Homo sapiens: one gene and its partners. The protein of the gene in region 1 interacts with the protein of each later gene in a pairwise test. Each region holds a gene or a part of one and is shown in the gene's direction. Other genes may lie near its edges.

What was found. Proteins that work in one complex are often made in the same cells at the same time.
Region 2: the proteins of CMTM7 (region 1) and FRMD3 interact in binary tests that used the Homo sapiens proteins (3 or more experiments, as listed by UniProt).
Region 3: the proteins of CMTM7 (region 1) and SHISA3 interact in binary tests that used the Homo sapiens proteins (3 or more experiments, as listed by UniProt).

What each region holds. Positions count from the first base shown.
Region 1 is NC_000003.12:32,387,765-32,394,853, forward strand, and holds the start of CMTM7 (CKLF-like MARVEL transmembrane domain-containing protein 7), read left to right. Parts: upstream 1-4,088; 5' UTR 4,089-4,142; coding exon 4,143-4,301; intron 4,302-7,089.
Region 2 is NC_000009.12:83,535,391-83,542,772, reverse strand, and holds the start of FRMD3 (FERM domain-containing protein 3), read left to right. Parts: upstream 1-4,371; 5' UTR 4,372-4,541; coding exon 4,542-4,688; intron 4,689-7,382. UniProt on the Homo sapiens protein: Putative tumor suppressor gene that may be implicated in the origin and progression of lung cancer.
Region 3 is NC_000004.12:42,392,831-42,400,498, forward strand, and holds the start of SHISA3 (protein shisa-3 homolog precursor), read left to right. Parts: upstream 1-4,657; 5' UTR 4,658-5,226; coding exon 5,227-5,503; intron 5,504-7,668. UniProt on the Homo sapiens protein: Plays an essential role in the maturation of presomitic mesoderm cells by individual attenuation of both FGF and WNT signaling.

The sequences.
Region 1 (7,089 bases):
ACCTCTGCATATCACAGTTACTCAAGCCAATGAATTATTTTGTTTTGCTTTTTATTAGTTTGTTTGTTTGTTTTTGAGACAAGGTCTCACTCTGTTGCCCAGGCTGGAGTGTAGTGGCACGATTATGGCTCACTGTAACATTGAACTCTTGGGCTCAAGTGATCTTCCCCCCGCTCAGCTTCTTAAGTTGCTTGGACTACACATCTGGCCAATTTTTTCATTTTTTGTAGAGATGGGGGTCTCACTATGCTGCCCAGGCTGGTCACAAAATCCTGGCCTCAAATGATCCTCCTGCCTCGGCCTTCCAAAATATTGGGATTATAGGCATGAGCCACCGTGCCAAGCCTATTTTGTTTTTTGTTTTGTTTTGTTTTTAAAGACAGGGTCTTGCTATGTTGCCCAGGCTGGCCTGGAACTTCAGGGCTCAAGAAATCTTCCTACCCCAGTCTCCTGAGTAGCTGGGACTACAGGCATGCACCACTGCTCCCAGCTTGAATGAACTCTTCTTTTTGCTTGATTTTAGTTTGTCTCATCAAAAGCACTGTGACTAATACAGAGTCAACTCTAATTTTATTACTTTTTTCATTATATCTGATCAGATATAACATCATAAACACACTGGTGAAGAAGAGTTATAGTCAGAGTACCACTCGAATTGAAGCTTTAAACTGTCAATAAGCCACCTGCAATCCCTCGGTGTAGAGAAAAGGAGAACTTGGACATCTTGATTTCTCACCAGGTATTCAGAGGTCACCTACCTGGTTGGTTCCCTCTTAGAGTGTGACATCTTTAAAGTGGGCTATGAAGCCCTTTGCCTAAGACCTTGCTTTCCCAAGGGGCAGCTATTCACATCTAGCAGACAACACACTAGTGTAGACATCTCAGTGCACTTGGCAAGCCTCTGAAGCCTCTTCTTGTAAGTCAGGCCAGCAATGGCCCTTGCACTGGCAAGCATCTTGCTCAAGCTCTTAAGTGATCATAATAAAGTGATTAACACAGAGTGCCCAGCACAGTGATTACTTCTGATTAGAGGTGGGTGGTGCATTAGTCAACACCAGGCAGAAAAGCCCAGCAATGTTTCTGAGCAGACTCAGGAAGAGATAGTTGTTCTCAAACTTGAGTATGCATCAGAATCACAGAATGATGGTGAAGGGGGGTGGGGAGTGAGGGTGGGGTTGGGAAGACTTGTTAAGACACACACTGCTGAGCCCTACCCCTAGAGTTTCTGATTCAGCAGGTCAGAGTGGGCCCCTAGAATCTGCATTTCTCACAAGTTCGCAGGTACTGCTGGTTGGGGGGCTATACACTGAAAATCACTGTTAGAAGACTGCTGAATTGGACAAAGGCCCCTCAAAGGAGAAATGATCCAGCACTTGGTTTTTCTGCTTCCCTGAAACCCTCATCTCAACAAAGATGCCCTGTTATCTCCACTGTGGGTCCTGAAGCCTTAGACAAGTACAGAAGTGAAATGTACATCTACATAAAAAAATGATACACAGTACTAACTTCATGCCTGTGGGTATAGAGCCAGAAATGTCACAGCACACCTGCATATCTATCACATTGTCACAGCAGCCCCTAGATGCAATTATTCCTGAATTACAGAGAAACAAATGGAGGTACCAGGCAGCTGTGACTGTTGTCTACAGAGAAGACACACGTGGAAGGCAATTTTTCTTGGTCATGAAAATTGTCAAATGTACATAAAGGTGAAATAAATAGTGTAATAAATCCCCAAATGTTTCAACTGCAGTGGACTCTGGCAATGACAGTGGTTCTCAAATTTGAGTGTGCATCAGAATCACCTAAGAGACTTGCCAAAACAGATATTGCATGGGTATCATCCACCAACAAGAATTATTAGGACTTTGCCACATCGAAAACTCTTCTGATGACAAGACAGCACTGGCAGGGAATAAACTCACAAAGATAGTTTTATGTTTCACTTTGCTTTGTTTTGTTCTTGAGGCAGGGTCTTGCTCTGTCACCCAGCCTGGAGTACAGTGTTGTAATCATGACTCACTGCAGCTTCAACCTCCCGGGCTCAAGCAATCCTCCCACCTCAGCCTCCTGAGTAGCTGGGACTACAGGCATGTGCCACCATGCCCAGTTAATTTTTGTATTTTTTTGTAGAGATGGGGTTTCTCCATGTTGCCCTTGCTGGTGTCAAACTTGGGCTTGTGAGCTTGATTTTGGGATTACAGACATGAGCCACCGTGCCCAGCCAGATTTTTTGATGTTATCTCCAAATGAATAAATGTAAGTATGGCCACAGGGACACTGCTCAAAAGGAACATGATAACATACCTCGTTTTGGTAGTCCCGTTTGGGCCTGTCTTCATTTTTATGTTTTTTTCCTTTTCTTTTTCTTTTTCTTTTTTTAAGAGACAGTGTCTCACTCTGTCACCCAGACAAGAGTGCGGTGGCAAGATCATAGCTCACTGCAATCTCGGACTCCTGGCCTCCAGGGATCTTCATGCCTTGACTTCCCAAAGTGCTGGGATTATAGGTGTGAGCCACCACGCCTGGCCTCTTCATTTTTAAAACAACCCAAAAGGGATACAGAATAGAATGTCACTTGGATAGCTGTTTGACAGCTTTTTCTTTTTCTTGTCTTTTTTTTTTTTTTTAATTGAGACAAGGTCTTGCTCTGTGGCCCAGGCTGGAGTGCAATGCCACTGTCATGGCTCACTGCAGCCTCAACCTCCTGGGCTCCAAGGCTCCTCCAGACTCAGCCTCCTGAACAGGCATGTGCCACTGCACCCAGCTAATTTATTTATTTATTTATTTTTATTTTTATTTTTATTTTGAGACAGAGTCTCGCTCTGTCGCCCAGGCTCGAATGCAGTGGCGCAAGCTCTGCTCACTGCAAGCTCCGCCTCCCGGGTTCACGCCATTCTCAGCATCCCGAGTAGCTGTGACTGCAGGCGCCCGCCACCACGCCCAGCTAATTTTTTGTATTTTTAGTAGAGACGGGGTTTCACCGTGTTAGCCAGAATGGTCTCGATCTCCTGACCTCGTGATCCGCCCGCCTCGGCCTCCCAAAGTGCTGGAATTACAGGCGTGAGCCACCGCGCCCGGCCCAGCTAATTTATTTTTATTTTTTGTTTTTTGTAGAAATGAGGTCTGGCCATGTTCCCCAGGCTGACAGCTTCTAACAGAAGCAAACATATGCTCCCCTTGTAACCAGTGCGTTCACTTGCAGATATTTGTCCCAGAGAAATGAGAGTTTGTATCCACCAAAAAAACGTGTACCATAATAGTGACTATAGCCAGAAAAGAGATGAGGGAGGGGGGAAAGGCCGGAAGGAGGGAAGGAGGCAGGCAAGCAGGTAGGAAGGAAGCAAGCTTGGTGTCCATCAACTGGGTAAACGTTTAAAAAATACGGTATCTTTGCACAGTGGAGTACTACTCAGCAATAAAAAGGAAGGAACTGATATGAACTACTTATATTCCCAACAGGATGGATCTTCTAATTTGTTATGTTGAAGGAGAATATTCTGTATTACTTCAAGTTTATGAAGTCCAAGAACAGGCAAAATGAACCTACAGTGACAGAAAGCAGAATACACTGTAGTGGTTGCCTGAGGCTGGATAAGGATGGGGCCAGGGAAGGAAGGTAGGTCAGGAAGGCCCACCACGGAACTTTCTGGGGTGATGGGCACGTTCTATTTGTTGATCTGGGCGACGGTTACACAGGTGTACACATATATAAAAATTAGTGGAGCTGAACACGTAAGGTCTGGGCATCACACTTTATGTAAGTTAAACTTCAGTAAAGTGCTCTCAGCACACATCCGCAGCCGCACCCACACAAAATCCCAGGAGGCTCAGTACCAGCTGTGGTCCGGGCCTTGCCCACCTCGGAGAGGCCACGACCCAAGGCATCCGGTTTCCTCTCGCTCCAGTCTAACTTCCGCGCATCTACGAGGGCCGGGACTGCCGCTACCTTTCTGGAAGGCGCCGGCCGGCCAGTCACCGGAGGGATCCCGCCAGAGGCGGCTCCGCGTCTCCAGCAGCGGGGCAGGGACCCGGGCGCCCCGCCCTCGCCAGCGCCCGCCCCCGCCCGCCCCCGGCCCGCCCTCTGTATCTGGCCCCTGGGCAGCTGCCCGGGGAGGCGGCCAGCGAGCTGGGGCCGCGCAATGTCGCACGGAGCCGGGCTCGTCCGCACCACGTGCAGCAGCGGCAGCGCGCTCGGACCCGGGGCCGGCGCGGCCCAGCCCAGCGCGAGCCCCTTGGAGGGGCTGCTGGACCTCAGCTACCCCCGCACCCACGCGGCCCTGCTGAAAGTGGCGCAAATGGTAAGTGAGCGCGGGGCGCGAGGCCGAGGTTCTACAGGGCGTCCCGGGAAAGCAGGGGTCCGGGAGCGGACGCGCCGGGCGTCTGGACCCGGCCGGAGCCCAGGGAGCATCGCGCAGCGGGCGGGGCACCGCGTCGCTAAAGTTCGCGGCAGGCTTCCTCCGGGAAAGTTGCTGCCGCAGCCCCCGCGCTGGAGCTCAGTCCCCAGAGCCGCCCCGGCCCTTGCTCCCGCGGACCCAGGTCGCCAGGGTCGCAAGTTTCTCCGGCCACCCCCCTGCGAAGCCTGACCCGCCTACTGACTGAAACCACGGGCAAAGTTCCTTTTCGTCTTTCTTCCTCTTCTCTGGGCCGCGCCGCTTCGAACCCGAGCCGGGGGTGGAAGAGTCGCCCAGGCGGCGGCGCTGAGGGAGCGAAACCCGACCTCTTCCCCGTCCACGGCCTCCTCTTTCCTCCGAACCCAGCGCGGCAGGGCTTCCCTGCTCTGTGTGCAGTTTCGCTCGAAGGAGGAGGTCAGAGGGTCTTGTGTTCCATAGTGGGGAAAAAGAACTGGGACCGTTGAGACGGCCGTCCTGGTCCCCTGCGCCCTCAAGTTCCGAGGGAGGGCCCGGGTCTCAGGGGGCTCTGGAGGGCAGGGGGTCAGTTGGGAAAGGCCTGTTGTCAGGGGCTGGTACTCATGTAGGGGAGCCAGACTGTTGAATGGGAGTCACCCGTGGAGCCAGGCAGGATGAGTGTCTGGGCTTGGATTGTGACCAACTCAGCACAAGGGCCTCCTACCAGGGCAGACGTTGCCTGGCCGATTCTCTTGTTCCCCACTCTTTTCTTTTCTCCCCTCCCGTTTTTTTCTTCTTTAAAAGTTTGTAATCTGAAACAACTTTTCCGTTTGTATGATGTGTTTTGAAACTGGGTTGGGCTGTTTGTGAGTCTCCACCATTGTAATGTTTGCACCAAGAACGGTGGGGAGGGGAGCGGTAAGTTTCAAAAAGAGGTGTGGGGAAAGGAGTGTGGGGCTGGACAAGGTCACACACCCAGAAGCTGGGGCCTGCTAAGGTGGCCTGGCCCCAGGGGGTTGGGCACAGGACGTCTGTGCATCTATAGCACTGCCATTCCAGACACTGAGTGTGCATGAGGTGGCCCTCATGTCTTGCTTGGGCCAGACCTAAAGAGAAGGGGCGCTGAGTTCCTGCCTCCCTAAGAACGGTGTCTAGATAGACCAAAAACTAGGAAGAGCCATTTCAGCAACGTACAAAAAAATCTGGTGCTGAGCATTGTTGGGTTTGAGCAGGGCATTTTTTGGCCCAGGCTAAGAGATTTGATCAGCCAAATAGAAGAGACCAGCCCATCTCACCATCCTTAAAAGATGGGCTGGGGTGAGACATATCCTACCTGAGCATTGGAAGGGATGAGTTTGGTAGACAGAGAATGGGATCAGAAGCCTCCATCTTGGCCCCTGAGTTTGCTGGACAAAGATATTGTGGGATGAAAAGTCTTCTTGTTGGTCTATGAGTTTGGTACACAAACATAATGGAGATGAAACCTCGGCAACATAGCGAGACCCCATCTCTACAAAAAAAATTTTAAAACCTTGTGTGGTTGGCATGGGCCTCTAGTCCCAGTTACTTGGGAGGCTGAGGTGAGAGGATTGATTGAACTGAGAAGGTCAGTGAACTGTGCCACTGCACTAGTCTGCGTGACGGAGGGAGGCCTGTCTCAAAAAAAAAAAAAAAAAAAGGTACAAAGAAAAGGTAATGGAGATGAGAAGCCTTCATGTGGTCCATGATTTTGATGAATAAAGATACTGGGAGATGAGAAATCTCCATCTCATCTTAAGCTCCTCAGCTAGCCTCTGGCCTGTGGTCCTTGGGCCAATTTGCAAGTGGCAAGAGTGGGGCCTGTTGTTCCAAAAAAGAGAACAAAGACTTGAATAATTTCTTTATCTGGTTGCTTATTCTCTATGTGCTCCTCTTAAAACCATGCTGAGGAGTCTTACACCTGCCCTGGAGGATTCCCCATCACTGCTGCAGGCTTGTTTGATCAGACCCTCTGGGAGCAAAGTTGCCCTTGCAGGATGGCTGTATTAGTCCTAGTTAGGGCTATCTACTTGGGCCTCTTATCTAACTCCTCCCTATTTTCCCACTTCTCCTCTTTTCTAAGACTCTGCTTGGGCATTTGAGGTTCATTTGTCTTCTTTGCTGGAAAATGCTTGTTTAGCCAAGTTTTAACATTGGGGAAGGGCAGAAGCAGCTAAATTAATGCCACCCATTGGGGCTTTCTTTCTATGGGTCTCTCATTTTGACCATCAGTTTCTCAGTTTCATACTGAACAGGTTGACCCTTTTGTCCTCAGCTTCTCATGAAATGTTTTCATCATGATCTGATCAATAGATCTGCCAACACGTTGTCTTAAGAAATCATTGCAAAGGCTGTTCCACTGGAGAATGACTTCCCTTGTCTTGGCCTCTTCTGGGTCCACCATTACTAGAAAATGAGTTTCTGAGTGAATGTGTGTACTTGACATGTCATTTATACATGTGTAATTTTTATAATCCTCTGGCCATGATAATTCAGTTTCTTTGGTCTTCCTTTTTGGAGTAGAGACACAGTCACAGGTTTTGACTTTTGACTTTAAAGCACTCTTTTTTTTCTTTCTTTCTTGAGAGGGAGTCTTGCTCTGTCACCAGGCTGGAGTGCAGTGGAACGATCTCAGCTCACTGCAACCTCTGCCTCCCGAGTTCAATCAAATCTCCTGTCTCAGCCTCACGAGTAGCTGGGACTACAGGCACGTGCCACCACA
Region 2 (7,382 bases), on another chromosome or scaffold:
TTTGTTCCACTGATCAATTTGTTTATTCTTTTGCCAGTACCATACTGCCTTGATCACTTTGGTTTTATATTAAGTCTTAAAGTCAGGTAATATCAGTCATCTGAGTTTGTTTTTCTTCAGTATTGTGTTAGCTACTCTGGGTTTTTGCCTTTCCATATAAACTTTAAAAAAAGTTTGCTGATATCCACAAAGTAACTAGCTCAGGTTTTGACTTGGGTTGCACTTAACCTATAGATCAATTTGGGAAGACCTGAAATCTTAACAGTATTGAGTCTTCCTATCCATGAACATGGAATAGCTCTCCATTTATTTAGTTCTTTGATTTCTTTCACCAGAGTCTTGTAGTTTTCCTCATAAAGATCTTGTGCATATTTTGTTAGATTTATACCTAAATATTTCTTTTTAAGTTATCAATTTTAATGGCTGTAAAAGTGCTTAAAATGAAAAAATTCAAGATGCAATATTTACAACCATCAATCTTTTGTGGGCAGGCCACCTGTTATCTATTTGTGGCTTACCAAAGTGTTATAACCCATTGGTTAGGCATATTTTTTGGTAAAGAATATCAGTTACTATCACTGAGCGTGAGACACTAATTAATCTCACCCATTGCCACTTCTTTAGTAAGAACTGGACTTGCAGCCACTGCTATGGCTGACATTCTAATGCCTCAAGTGGAGCCACCTTTCCTGTACTCAAATGTCCTCTGTTTGTTGCCTGTCATCCCAGCTACTTGGGAGGCTCAAGCAGGAGGATTGACTGGGGCCAGAAGTTCGAGACCAGCCTGAGCAACATAGTGGGACCCAATCGGTAAAAAATAATAATAATAATAAAAAATAAAAAAATGTTTCTGGTTGTCTTTGGGGGACAGGTTCAGATTTGGGAATATTTGTAGGGGGATTTTAGCCTGGCCTTTGTTCACCTGGTGTAGAAATCTTGTTTGTCCTATAGATCAAATTGAGTCCTAGTTGGATGCTTGGCCACCAGCAAAATCCCTATGAGTCACACCATTCTGAAGTCTACTTGGGTACCACTGCTTATGATTGTACCAAGCCCTCCCTGGCACTGAGGGTTAAGTCATGCACCACTATTTGTCTTCTGCCAGCCCAGGCTCTCATCCTTCCCATTTAAGTCAGGGAGCTCCTTTTGACTGCAGTGTCTTTCACAACCATCTCTTGCTACAAAGAACAGCCACTTTGGTGCTTTTCAAAGATGGCAGTCCTTCCTTTGCCAATGATTCTTTGAAAATCTTGGTGGATGCCCCCTCAGGGGACACAGTTAAAGAGAGGTAAGCTGGCCACATGTGGAAATACACTGCAATATTTCCATCTCCTTGATTCTTTGGATCTTTTCCTGTACATGTACCAGGGAATTTCCTTTTTCTCATCTTCATTTAGCTGAGTCCAGAAGTCAGTTAGTCAATTTAGATAGTACATTGAAACCAGAGTCATTGGGAAGTGAATTCAAATGGACAGATTCAGGTTTATTCACACATATACTCTTCAATGTAAATTAGCAGAATCTTGCAATTCTTTCTCTTCTTGGGGTTGACTTTATAGTTGGTCTCCTAGGGTGTGACTGAATCTGGTTCAAGTATTAAGAGTGAGAGTAGTCAGAGATGGTGGGAGAGGGGTGGGAGGAGATCGGCTTCCCTTTCCAAGGTAACTGCCTTAAGTGAGTTCCGAAGAGGATCTTCAAACAAAGCAGGAACAGCCTCGTTACATAAGGAAGAGGGCATGCTTCTGCTGCCAAGGGAGTTTGGGGGCTTGAGTGACTAGGAATCATTCAAGTTTTCTTTTATAGTCCTATTCTTATTCCCAGATTCCCACTCTTTCCTGCTGATAATTATAAAATCTTGTGAGGCCGATAATTCAATTGACTTTGTAATTTGGCGATTTGTAGATGAAATTGTGAATTTGGTTTTTCAGTTTTGGCCTTGTGGCTCAATTAACAAGATATTCTTTGAGCTCTGTTGTTTGTAAAAATACAGTTGTTTAAAAGTCATAAGCTGATAATTTAGGACTTAGTGCATCACTACTTTTCTTTCAGTGGTCCAGTTTTAAACTCATCCCTTGAGTTCATTCTTTGAGTTCTTCCTAATCTTCATATTATTATTATTATTGTTGACAATGGCCAGTTGGTTTCCCAGAGCCTTGTCTTCATTGGGTAGTTCAATCCAGGTGACCATACTTGGTAATTTACCTAGCTGTCATGCCAAGTGCTTCCAGAGCCTGTATTTTCATACTAGTTGAATCTCAGCCTTTATTCCTAATCAGGCCAGACAACCAATCTCAGATTCTTCTCATTTCTTCAAAATTCTGTTTCTTACAGTCCCACATTGGGTTATCTTTATTCTGTCTTTTTCACTACTGTCCTTGTTGGTCTTATTTTGCTTCCTTGGAATTTGGGGTAACAATTTTTGGGTATTGATATGACTCTTTTGGAGCCTAACGGTCACTATAATAGGATGGACAAGTGTGTGTGTGGTCTTAAAAGAAAAGCATGGACTGTTTGGCTGGTGACTTTTCTTTGATCTCTGGGCTGTCTGCTCTTTTGGCTAGCAGAGATGATCCAGTTTTCAACTTGGGGCAGGTCCCATCCCTGCCACCTCATATGTGCATATGGGGATTTACAGATTACAGCTGTAAGATGTCCTCCACTGACCCGGTGTCATACCAGCTTCCCAGCCACCTGTGGGATGAACAGGTGTTCTCTCCTTTGAAATGAGAAAAGAAATGGAGAGACTTTTCAAAGATCCCCAGGATTAGCCAGTAGCTGGGCCAAGAATGAAATCCACATCTTCCCATACCCTCAATACTGACCTCTCCATCAGGATCTGCCCTAACATTTGAAGGGCCCAGCTCAAGAGCCTACATGAATGCCCCATACTATCATCTAAATATTCATAAGCAATAGTCAGCTATTGAGTGCTACATAAAACATTCTCTATCCTCCTATCTTGACAAATTGTTGCAATTTGGAATTTCCAGGAGCAGATACTGAGACTGAGTTTGTCCTGTGTGGTATTTATTAGTGATCAACAGGGAGAGGAGGCAGGAGCAGGCAGAGAGAGAAGTCCAAATGCAATGCGGACTCCCCCAAACCTTAGCCAACCCCACTAGGTGTCCTAGAGAATATATGGCCCACCAGACTGTCCAGGGCAGGTAAAATTTGTGTGCCACTCTTCCTCGACCCCCAGGACAGGGCATATCTTTGGATGAGGGGACTCTATGCAGGCACAAACCTTGAAAAAGCTGACAGCTGGTCAACACCTCCTCTTCTAACAAATGTTCCTTCCTAATGACCTGTTCTGCTCCGGCAAGAGCAACAGGGTGAGAGGACTTCCATCTCTCCCAGCTCCTGGACATTCTAGTGCTCACATTCAAGCTCCATACCCCTGACTCAACAGCTGCTCCTGGCCACTCTCGGGCCTACGGTACCTGACACAGTGGCTCTAGCCACCTTGGGGACAACAGAGAGGCAGGATACCTCCTACCTTCAACACCCTGGAGGCGCGTGGGGAATTCCAGAGTCCTCAATACCCAGAGATTGGACTAAAACGGGATGGGGCACATCCGCTTTGCCATTAGACCTCTTAATTCCTGAGCAACCGGGAACTGGAGGAGGTCTGTAAAGCAGGGGAGTAGGATAGGAACCTATCCCTCTTGCTCGGGTCAAAGGTATGCTATCAAAGATCACACTAAGATGTTGGGAGATTTAAAGGAGGATTTGCACATGGAAGGCTCTTTTTTGGAGAAAGAGACTGAGTCCTAGCTAGCATTAAATAAAACAATGGCTTAAACAATCTCCATGAGTACCAGAGATTTTTACTATTAGCGATATTCCTGGTGTAGCCGTGTCAGGGCTGTCACTCTCTCTGTCACTCGCCCTGGGCCCAGCAATCCTTTCCCGAGGCGGAATCCCCCTGGCGGTGTGGGTCAGGATCGCTCTCCGTCCCCTACCCGCGCCAGGTCCCTGGAGCTGAGCAGAGCAGGGCGCTGTCGAGCGCGTTGGGGAGCCGGGGCCGGGACGAGCACAACCGGGAGCCCGAGCGACAGCGGCCAGGGGAGGGAGGAGGCGGTGAGGCTGAGGAAGGCAGTCGGGCCCAGCTTGACGCAGCGGCGGCTGCGACTGAGCAGGCCACCACCAGGGCACCCGGGCCAGCCGCGCCAGCCATCCCTCCGCCTCCTCCTTCAGCTGCTCGGCGCGCGTGGGAGTGAGTGCGTCGCGAGCCCGCCGGGGGTCTCAGGCTCTGGGCGTCCTCGGCGAGCGAGCCCGGGCAGAGGGAGGCGCACGAGCGCGCGCGACAGAAGGAGGCGGGGAAAGGAGGGGGCGAGGCGGAGGCGAGCGAACAGAGGGAGGGACCCGCCCGCCGCGCCCCGGCCGCTGGGCATGTGTGTCCGCAGGCGCCCGACGCTGCCGATGTCCCGGGGCTGAGCCGCGCCCAGGTGTCCCGGACAGTGCGTGCGAGCGTGTGTGTCCGCGCAGGCGAGCACCGCGCCGGCCCTGAGCCTCCCGCTCGCTCCCCACGGCCGCGGTGCATGTTCGCCTCCTGCCACTGTGTGCCGAGAGGCAGGAGGACCATGAAAATGATCCACTTTCGGAGCTCCAGCGTCAAATCGCTCAGCCAGGAGATGAGATGCACCATCCGGCTGCTGGACGACTCGGAGATCTCCTGCCACATCCAGGTGCGCGTGGAACCGGGCGAGGGCGCGGGGCACACGCCGGGAGCAGGGCGGGGGGCCTTTGCGGTGGGCATGCGAGAACAAGGAACCCACTCCCGGAGGGGATTGGGGGACTGCTAGAAAGCCAGATTTCGATTCCTCAGGCCTCTGAGGGTGGGGGGCCTTATCCTGGCATGGAGGGGCATGGTGCCCTGCAAGCGCCAGGCACGCGTTATCCGCGCCCAGTCTCCTTCCCCTCGCGTGCACCCTGCGCGCGCGTCTCACTGCGCCCGGGCTAGGGGCGCGGGGCAGCTGCCTCCGGAGGGACTCTGGCCCCTCTGGGCCCTACTCCGCCAGGAGATGGGAGCTCCGAGGGCTGAGAGGGGCACCTGCATGTCGCCCACTGGTATTTCCTCCCTTCTTCCACGTGGAGAAGGCATGCATCAGCTGGGTTCACTCATTTCTGTCTCCCGCGCCCAGGCTCCGGAGACGCCCTCAGTCCCGGAACCTGCTTTCCGCTCCGTGTCGGTCCCCCTCACCCTCCGCCGGTGGTCTTTAGTTCTCCGCGTGGGGCGGTGGCGAAGTTTCCCCAGAGTGAGAGAGGCCGGGCTGCCCTGGGCGCCAGCCTTGAGGGATGGAGCGCGCGCTGCGCCGGACTGGAGCTACCTCGAAAGGAATGTGTGAAGTCTGAGTGTTTCGGAGAAAGGAAAAGGGATTGTGAGGCCAGCAAGTGGGGAGCCCTGCAGGAACCTGGGTCCTGGGTAAAAGAGCCCCGTGGAATCTTGGTGGACATTCACTGTCGCCCAAGTTGGAGGAGAAGGCGAGTTGTTTGGGAGAAGGCAGCTTTGCTGGCAGCCCTGTCCTCGGGTAGTAAGTGCCTCTGGGCTGTCAGGAGAGCTAGTGTGAGGTGCAAAGGTGTGTGTGTGCATGTGGTTGCGCGTGCGTGTGCATATTTGCTGTGGGTGAATATGTAGGCAGGTGGGAGCCCCTCTTCCAGGACCCCAAAGATGCCCCACTCGGTGCGCACACAATCAGGAAAGGTTGTGTCAGGGCTCAGCACAATTAACTTCTGACTTCTAAATCTATTTAACTGTTTATCTCTGGGATTTCCTTTCTCACCTACCCTAGTCGAGTCTTGAGGCTCTGGGACTGAGCTTTTTTTTTTTTTTTTTTTTTTTAGTGTAATACAGGGCACACCACCCATGTCAGTGGGAGGTGAGTGGGGCAGCATCTCCCAGAGTAGGAATCAGCCTCTAGGCTGTGCAAACCATGAAGGAATGAAAGGACTTTCCCTGTTTTATTTTTATTTAATTTTTGTTAGTGGGAGTGTGTGACATGTTGGGGGCAGTTGCAATTAATTTGTAACCTGACAGCCGGACAAGTGTCAAGGTAGGAATGTGATGCCCCATGATCTCCCAGGAAAGTAGGCTCCCATTGAATTTTCTGGGGGAGCTTGAATTTCATTCTGAGCTAAGCAGCACTGCTAAACTTAATAATAAAAGGATTAGCAGGATAGGCAGTGTTTCTACTGCCACAAGGGTTGCACAGAAGCATCTGGCATGTACTAATAGTCTTGTGATCCAGAGAGTGTGGACTGTGCACTTTGCTTTAAGTCCTAAAGTGGGTGTACAGGTCCTTTAACCCATAATGAATGTGTAGATGATGGAGGGGCCGTCAGGGAGAGAGGCTGTTGAGTTCTCCTCTGTCTCTCAGCCCTCTTCTGCCCTGTACCACTTGGTGTTGACATTTTTTTCCCCTCCCTCAGGATGAAGTCTTCCTTAGAATAATAAATATTCCCCAAAGGACATGTATTTGTTGTCTTGTGTTTTGAGAAACAATAAATTGTAGCCAGTCTAACAACAGTTTGAAAAACTCCAGTGCTTATGACCCAACTAGTGCCAAAGAGGTTAAAATGTTATGTTTCAAAATGTTGGCTTGGGCACTGATTTTTAAAAAATTATGATGTTTCATTTTGTGATTTGTCTTTTTCTGCCCTTTCTGCCCCCAAATTACAATTATTATTTAACCAATTAAAATAAATTAAAATATTTTATTTGGATAACTTTAGACCTCACACTTTCCTAGAGTACTCCAGACCAGGAATTGAAATTGCCCTTCCGGGTATCAGGTAACAAAGACTTCCCATTTGCTTAGAGTGAGAACAAAAGGATTAAAAAACAATGCGAAACAAAACCATTTGGAATTACTGGCACTTGTTCTGGGTGAATCCATCTGTGTTTGCTTCCTTCCTTCTATAGAACTACAAAGTTAAAGGATTGTATATATTGTCACAGAATGTCACCCTCTCTCCATAGCCCACATCTGCCTGTCTGCGTTAGGAGCTCTCATCCCTGGTGTCTGCCTGGCTCTGGAGCAGGGGTGTCCAATTTTCTGGCTTCCCTGGGCCACATTGGAAGAAGAAGAATTGTCTTGGGCCACACATAAAATACACTAACGCTAACGATAGCTGATGAGCTAAAAAAAAAAAAATCACAAAAAGTCTCATAATGTTTTAAGAAAGTTTATGAATTTCTGTTGGGCTGCATCCAAAGCTGTCCTGGGCCATGGGTTGGATGAGCTTGATCTAGAGGCTCTGTAGGAGGAGCAGGAGCTCTTGGACATGTGTTAGTTGTTCACTCCTGTTCACTACAGGAGTGCTGCCTATGGAGCCCCAAAATAAGTAGGGGAAACTCAAGCCACACATCCTTGGGAGCTCAT
Region 3 (7,668 bases), on another chromosome or scaffold:
CAGGACCCAGAGAGTGGTACAAAAAGGGAGGGAATGGGCTTTGGGTGGGCACTGCCCTCTGGCTCTATTCACTCTTTCCCCTGTGGCTGCAGACAGGGCAGAGGAAGGCCAGAGGGCCTCAGAGTATGGTCCTCAATGCAGCCACTTGGCATCACCTGGAAACTCATTAGAAATGCAGAATCACAGGCCCCACTGCAGACTTTGTGAGAGTCAGGTCTGCTTTTTTTTTTTTTTTGAGATGGACTCTTGCTCTGTCACCCAAGCTGGAGTGCAGTGGCGTGATCTCAGCTCATTGCAACTTCTGCCTCCCGGGTTCAAGCAATTCTCCTTCCTCAGCCTCCTGAGTAGCTGGGGTTACAGGTGCACGCCACCACGCCCGGTCAATTTTTGTATTTTTAGTAGAGATGAGGTTTCACCATGTTGGCCAGGCTGGTCTCAAACTCTTGACCTCAGGCGATCCGCCCGCTTCGGCCTCCCAAAGTGCTGGGATTACAGACGTGAGAGCCACTGTGCCCGGCCAGATCTGCATTTTAACAAGATTCCCAGGTATTTCATGGCCTTTTGAGAAACACTCTCTAAGGGCCCTAGCTTAAGCCCCTCTTTTGGTAAATGAAGAGACTGAGGCTGCCCGAAACACAGGGCAGGAAGAGGGGCCTGGCCTGGGGCTGGGTTGCCCAGGTCTGAGAGTGTCCTTCTAGGCACCTTGCTATTCTCTAGGGTAAACATGTGCCACAGCAAATTTCAGAGAAAACACCTTTCGAGTAACTCAGATTGAGAGGGGCCTGGAGTAAGAGATTTACAACAAGCGATCCAAGGAAGAGAATTCCATGAAGTCATGGGCAAGGTAATTAAAGGAAAATTAAATTAAAGTGTTTTTTTCTGAATTAAAGGAGAGTGAAAACAAGTCATTGCACAAGCAAACTTGAGGGAGGGTTGAGGAACTCTTGTTTTTCATTTTGTTTCTGAGGCCAATGCAAATGAGCTGGAGTAGACTCTTCCATAGTCCAGTGAACTGCCCTTTTTTGTTTTTGTTTTTGTTTTCTGCATTCCTTTAGCCTTCCTCCTTTTTCCTCAGTATATTTTAGTTCCCAAACCTTTCTGATCCATGTGGCCCTTCACCTCCCTGCTTTTGGTTTTCTCAAATCATTCACTCAGCTCCAAAGAATATAAAAAAGATAAGTCAACAGAACAATTTTTTTCTTTTTTATTTTTTTTGAGACACGGCATCACTGTTCACCCAAGCTGGAGCGCAGTGGTGCCACCGCTGCACACTGCAGCTTCCACCTCTTGGGTTCAAGTGATCCTGCCACCTCAGCTACCCCAGTAGCTGGGCCTACAGACATGTGCCGCCATGCCCAGCTAATTATATTTTTATTAGTAGAGATAGGGTCTCACCATGTTGCCCAGGCTGGTCTTGAACTCCTGAGCTCAAGGGATCCTCCCTCCTCGCCCTCCCAAAGTGCTGGGATTATAGGCATGAGCCACCATGTCTGGCCAGAACAAAGTTTAAAAATATGGTCAGCAAATATGTCCTAAGAATATTAAATGCATCGGCTGGGCGCAGTGGCTCACGCCTGTAATCCCAGCACTTTGGGAAGCTGAGGTGGGCGGATCACCTGAGGTCAGAAGTTCGAGACCAGCCTGGCCAACATGGTGAAACCCCATCTCTACTAAAAATACAAAAATTAGCCGGGCATGGTGGTGGGTGCCTGTAGTCCCAGTTACTTGGGAGGCTGAGGCAGGAGAATTGCTTGAACCCAGGAAATGGGGGTTGCAGTGAGCCGAGATCATGCCATTGCACTCCAGCCTGGGCAACAGAGTGAGACTCCGTCTCAAACAAAAGGAAAAGAAAAGAAAAAAAGAGTTGCATTTCGATTTTATAAGTTCCCTTCAGCCAGCTACAGTTATCTACATGTTGCCAGTTGTGTTTCAGTTCTGCCTAGCCCATCTTCTCATCCCTATTGCTCACCTATCTTTTCTTTTTCCTCCTACCCTCCCTCTTTTCTTTCCCTTTCTTTCTGCCTTTCTCTCCTCTCTTTCTTTCTTGCTGGTGTTTATTAAAGCATAGTCCAGACATCATGTCAATTAACTCACTTCCTACAGAGTTTCCTTGAGGCAGGGCCACAAGAGAATGTATGTAGGCTGGGGAAATGATCTCTTATGATTATGTTCTTGACCAAAATAAGGAATTTGTGTTACTGAGATAAGAAACAATAAAGAATTTCCAAAACCTCTTCATAATACCCCAGATATTGTGGACTTTATTTTCTATCTCTATGTCTTCCCCCTAGAGTCTTTCAGGGGTGTCTATGAGAACTTTTTCATCTTCCTTTACTATTAAACTAGTAACAGAATAACAAAAACTTTGGATGTTTATATATCTAAAAAGAGGTGAATATTCTCTTTCTGTTGGTGAAAAGGATTCTCAGGGCATCAGTTTTGAAGTTAAAATTTGACAATGGAAAGTTTGCAGAGATCTTCTATGACAAGAAACCAAACATATCACTGCCTCCCCCCAACCCCTCGCCCAGGCAAACTCCTGAAGCTGATTGTTGTAATGGTTTTAAAGGTGCTTAGGATGAGGACCTAGATCTGAAGCATGGTGCACAGTTGTTTACTGTTCACACAAGTCAGATCTACGAAGGATCAAGTAATTTGGAGGTTTGGTTACTTTCCATTAGTAAACATCATCCAACTAAATTTGGGTAAAATGCCCTCTAAATAAGTCAAGTAGACAGGAGCTTTGAATGAGGGAATTAATTATAGCTGGTGTCTCCAGGAAAAAGAATCCCACTGTGGCATGGAGAATGTAATTAATGGGAGGTAAGTGCCAACAAATCACTCCTTAAAATATTAATGCTATCAAAGAACAGCTGGATAATGAGAGAAACTTGACCCTTGGGGGACCAGCAAAGGTTGCTGCTGCAGCAGAACTTTATGCAGTTATGACGTAATGAAATTCCTCTAAATTTTAACAAAAACTAATATTAAAAGGTGTGGTTCTGGGAAAGTTATTAGCAGTAAACATGTCATAATTTTTATCATCTGATTATAATCACTATATCTCATTTTTGCTGTGTTTCTAAGTGACATTTTCCTGTAATTGCTCAGGATATATATACAATTGAAACAACACTCCTAAAAAACAACTAGAGTTAAAAAAAAGATTAAGTCTGGCAAGACCTTTTTTTTGTAAATAAAAAACCCAATATCTAAGAAATTTCTGCAAAACAATTTCCCATATGCTTAAACTATTTAACTAAAAAACTGTTTCATTGTTTGTTATTGAAAGCTCCAACTTAATTTGTTTTTACTTAATAGCTTCGTATTGTCCTAAGAAATATGTAACTCTAAGAGAGCAATAAAGTTAAATATTTACACGGTCCCACTTAACGTGTGAAATGGACATGTATTTTCAGCAGCCACATAACTAAATGCTAATCCCAATACCTAAAATTAGAAATCAGAAGTAATTATTTAATTGGAATATACTTTAACTTAGATAAAAAAAAAAAAAAAAGAAATCGTTTTAATAGGAGATTTTTAAAAAAGTTTCTCCGGAATCGACTCGGTTCATCAGGAAGCTGCGAACGTGATAAATGCGTTTGACCGCGCACCTTGTGTCGCTGGAGCTGAGAACACTTTGTTCCTTTTGTTTCACTCAACTTGCCGACATCTAACTCAGGGACACGGGTATGCAGCTTGTTTGACAAATAAGCCGAGATACACCGAACATATTCACACATACCAATAGACGATGATTGGAAGTTCAGGATGCAGTCAAAATAAATGCTTGCGTTTGGCCCAGGTTTCACATAACACCAGTTTCATAAGGCACTTAGGCCGCTAACGGAGCAGTGCCCCTGAAAATAGCCCACAGGGGACACATCATTTAAATAAATGTGTTTCTTTCCCTGAACAGAAGTTCAGTTCTGCTCAATTATCATTAATTTTGCTCCTTTATTTCCTTTGCGGGCGTGAACGGAGAAGTCGTGCTCTTTGAGGTTTTGCGAGCTGGCCTTGGCTGGCAGAGGTGACCGGCAATCCTTCAGCCGGCGGAAAAAGTGCGAGTGTGTGTGTGTGTGTGCTTGTGAAAATGTGCCGTTCCTCCCAGAAAAAGTGGAAACGTAGGTGGAAAGCTCAGCACATGTTGGCGACACCTAAAAACCATGTTCTCGGTCCTGAACCTTTAGAAGCGGTATCCCAGGAACGAGTCTGAGTCTGTGCAACAGGGCACAGATGATTCGACAAACTTCAATGACTGCACCGCATTCATGCATTATATCCATTGAAAAGTAAATCCAGCGTCTCCACTCGCGCGCCCACGTGCGTGGATAAACGCGGGAATTCGGCAGCCCTCAACGTCACTCTGCAGAGATTTCCGGGCTGTGAGAGAGTTGGGGTGTGCGGCGGGGGAGGGGAGGGTCTGATATCTTCAGGTTGAGAGTCAAGTCCTGGGGGAGCGGCATGGGCGGGGGTGGCCGGGGGGAGGCGGAGGATGGAGCGCGAACCAGAAAGCGCAGAGGACCCTCGGCCCGCGCCGCACCCGCTGTGATTAGCTCCAGAGGCGCGATCCGGGAGGGCGGACTCTTTCTTAACCCTCATTGTCTCCTCCTCCCTCTTCCTTTTTAAAAGACGCCTTGCGGGCAGAGCTGTCAGCAACCCCGCGGCCGTTTGTACTTGGCCGCGGCGGAGCTGACTCCTGCTCCTGTGACAGATAGGGGCTGGGGCTGAGCGGCCGCCTGTCTGGGGTACTCGCACGTGGGGAACAAATTCTTTTCCTCCGGCTCCTCTCGGGACCCGGCGATCGCCACAGGTTGGGACTCTGTGCGGCGCTGGAGTTGGCAGCCCCGGGCGCTATGGCTCCCTTGAGGAGTGGGGAGGGAGGTGGCCGGGGGGTTGGCGCGCCCCTCGCGCGGGGAGCGCTATGAGCCGGGCGAAGGGCGGCAGCGACAGCCCCAGCAACTGCCTCTGCCGGCGCCTCCCGCAGGCCCTCGCCAACTCGCCCCGCGCACCATGCTGACTCCCGGCCTGCGGAACTCGTAGTGCAGCCCCTGTCGCCTCCCCGGCCCCTGCTATCCCACGCAGGACTGGCTTCGGCCGCCGGGGCCAGCAGCTTGCGACGTGTCCCTGGGGAGGCGGAATCGCTGTGCGCCCTGAGCCCGGGCTCAGCCCTTCGCTTTCCAGCTGCGTCCTGCTCCCGGCCGCCCAGGGAGCCCAGTGGCGATGAGGGCACTGCTGGCGCTTTGCCTTCTCCTTGGCTGGCTGCGCTGGGGCCCGGCGGGCGCCCAGCAGTCCGGAGAGTACTGCCACGGCTGGGTGGACGTGCAGGGCAACTACCACGAGGGCTTCCAGTGCCCAGAGGACTTCGACACGCTGGACGCTACCATCTGCTGCGGCTCCTGCGCGCTCCGCTACTGTTGCGCCGCGGCCGACGCCAGGCTGGAGCAGGGCGGCTGCACCAACGACCGCCGCGAACTGGAGCACCCAGGCATCACTGCGCGTAAGTGCGGGGCCCTCGGGGACATATCCCCGCCCGCCTAACGGCGGCGGCTGCATGTGTGCGCGGGAGGATGCACAGACCCAGGCAGGTCTATGCGCCTTCCTGGGTCTGTGCGCCAGGGGGACGCGGCCGGGTGGGGGAATCAAGGGATGAGTGGGTGGTCGCGTTTCAGATCATGGTCCTCTATTCATTTGCAGTCCCGCTTCCCGCCACTTGCGGTCTCTGCGGGTCGGCCCGCAGGGAAAGTTTGCCAGGGACAGTGAGGAGCGCGGGGCTTGTGCCTGGTAGCCGGGGGGAAGACAGCTGGAGCTCCCGGGAGAAGGGTAGTGCGGGTAAAGCCAGGGTAGACTTGGGTTTTGGTGGAGGGGCCGAGGGTGTCCCATTGCTCGCCCTTGTCACTTCGGGAGCTTCGGGAAGTGCCGAATGCAGGGAATCGCGACTCTTGTCGCGCGCTCATTTGCAGCCCTTCAGGGCTAAGAAACCCCAGTCACTTTTTTTTTCTGTCTTAATGATAGCGTTTCTAAGCCACGGCCCCGTTCTGCAGACTTCCTTTCAATTCTCTGCATCGAATTACCCTCTCCGGCCCACCCCCTATTGTCACGCCTTTCAGAAATGCCCAGGTCTTCGAGGTGGAGATTTAGAAACAAGGGTCGAAGGGGCTTCCCCGCCCCCTATTCTCACTTCGGAAAACACGGGTCAAATTTCCGCTGACTTCAGAGCGGAATAAATCACGACCCCAGCAGAGAAAATTTACACCTTGAAAAAAAGTTTTCCACCTGAATCGGAACATCAGGGAAACGCTTTAGAGCTTGAGGCGAGGGTTTTATGGCCAGGGAAACCGGAGAAGCGGGCGGAGCTGAGAGCGGGTGACACCCCAGGACTCCAGAGAGCCGAGGTCTGGAGCCCGCAAGAGAAGGTCGCCGGGAAAGGGAAGAGAGGCTGGAGAGATCATTAAGGGTTCCCCAACGGCCCCTCCCCGCAAACTGATAACCCAGAGGACAGGGGAGTCTGCCCTCCATTAGTGCTCCACTAGAGGGTGAATGTTGGGGGTCAACATTTCCAATCTAGAGGATTCTGGAAGTAGTTCTGGAGAAAAGATGCTCAGCGGAAAGTAGGGAAATCTAGGCCCTCCTGGCCTGTTAGAAAAATATAGACTCTTCCCCACGGCTTCACTCGCTCACCCTGGGGGACCCAGCTGCCCTCTGGGAGTAAGTGCAATTGCCCAGTCTGCAGCACGGGCTTCCTCTGCGCTCCCTACTCGGCTCGGATGCCAGAGGACAGCAGAAGGGAGAGGCAGTCTCCACACTCACTGAGTCTGGGATCAGGCAAACCCTGATGGACCTTGGCTCTGTCACTTGCCGGCGGTGTAACTTGGGCAAGTTACTTAACTGCTCTGGATACCTCTTCTCAGTTCTAAAGTGGGCATATTGCTCTCAAAGGAGTTAAGTTGTTGGTGACGTGAGAGTGTATGAATGCTGGAGCGCAGGGCTCAGTAAATGGTAGTTACTTACCTTTGCCTTGCCTTGCACGCTGGTGCTAGTAAACAAGGGAGAATGGGAGGGACACAGAAGAGCTTACGCCTAGTAGCCCACAAATAATTGATAGTTACCTGTCCCTCACTAGCTCTGTCTGTGGGAATGCGCAAACTTCTCTGATGTATTTCCACATCTGGAAAATGGAGCTTATCATGTCCATCTCACAGGGTCTCCAAGAGACTTTAATCAGATAATGAATAAGAAAGAGCCAGGCACACAGTAGGGACTTAGTCAATGCAGGCTTTCTTTCTTCTACCTGTAAGCTGGAGGCTGCGTCTTAGCACGGCTCTATCAGGGGAGAGACCTGGAGAACTGCCCAAGGGGATGCCTCCGGGCTTGGGAATTTTATGTCTGCCTTGTAGAGAGAGAAGGAAATTGGAGTTTGCTCTGTTTGAGGGATGCTTTTATAGAAAGTCTGGGCCGTGGACACCAAGAATTGCCTGGTGATCTATCTAAAGTTCAGTCTGACTTCCCAGGCTTGGATGGGAATTGAGAGGCACGGCAGCTGGAGTGGGTATTCCAAATCTTTCCTGGAAAGAAGCAGCCAGAGCTGGCAATTTGTGGTGTATGGTAGGAGACACAGTCGATTGGGGCCCTCTGTGAATTTCTTTATACTGTTCTTTCTGGAGT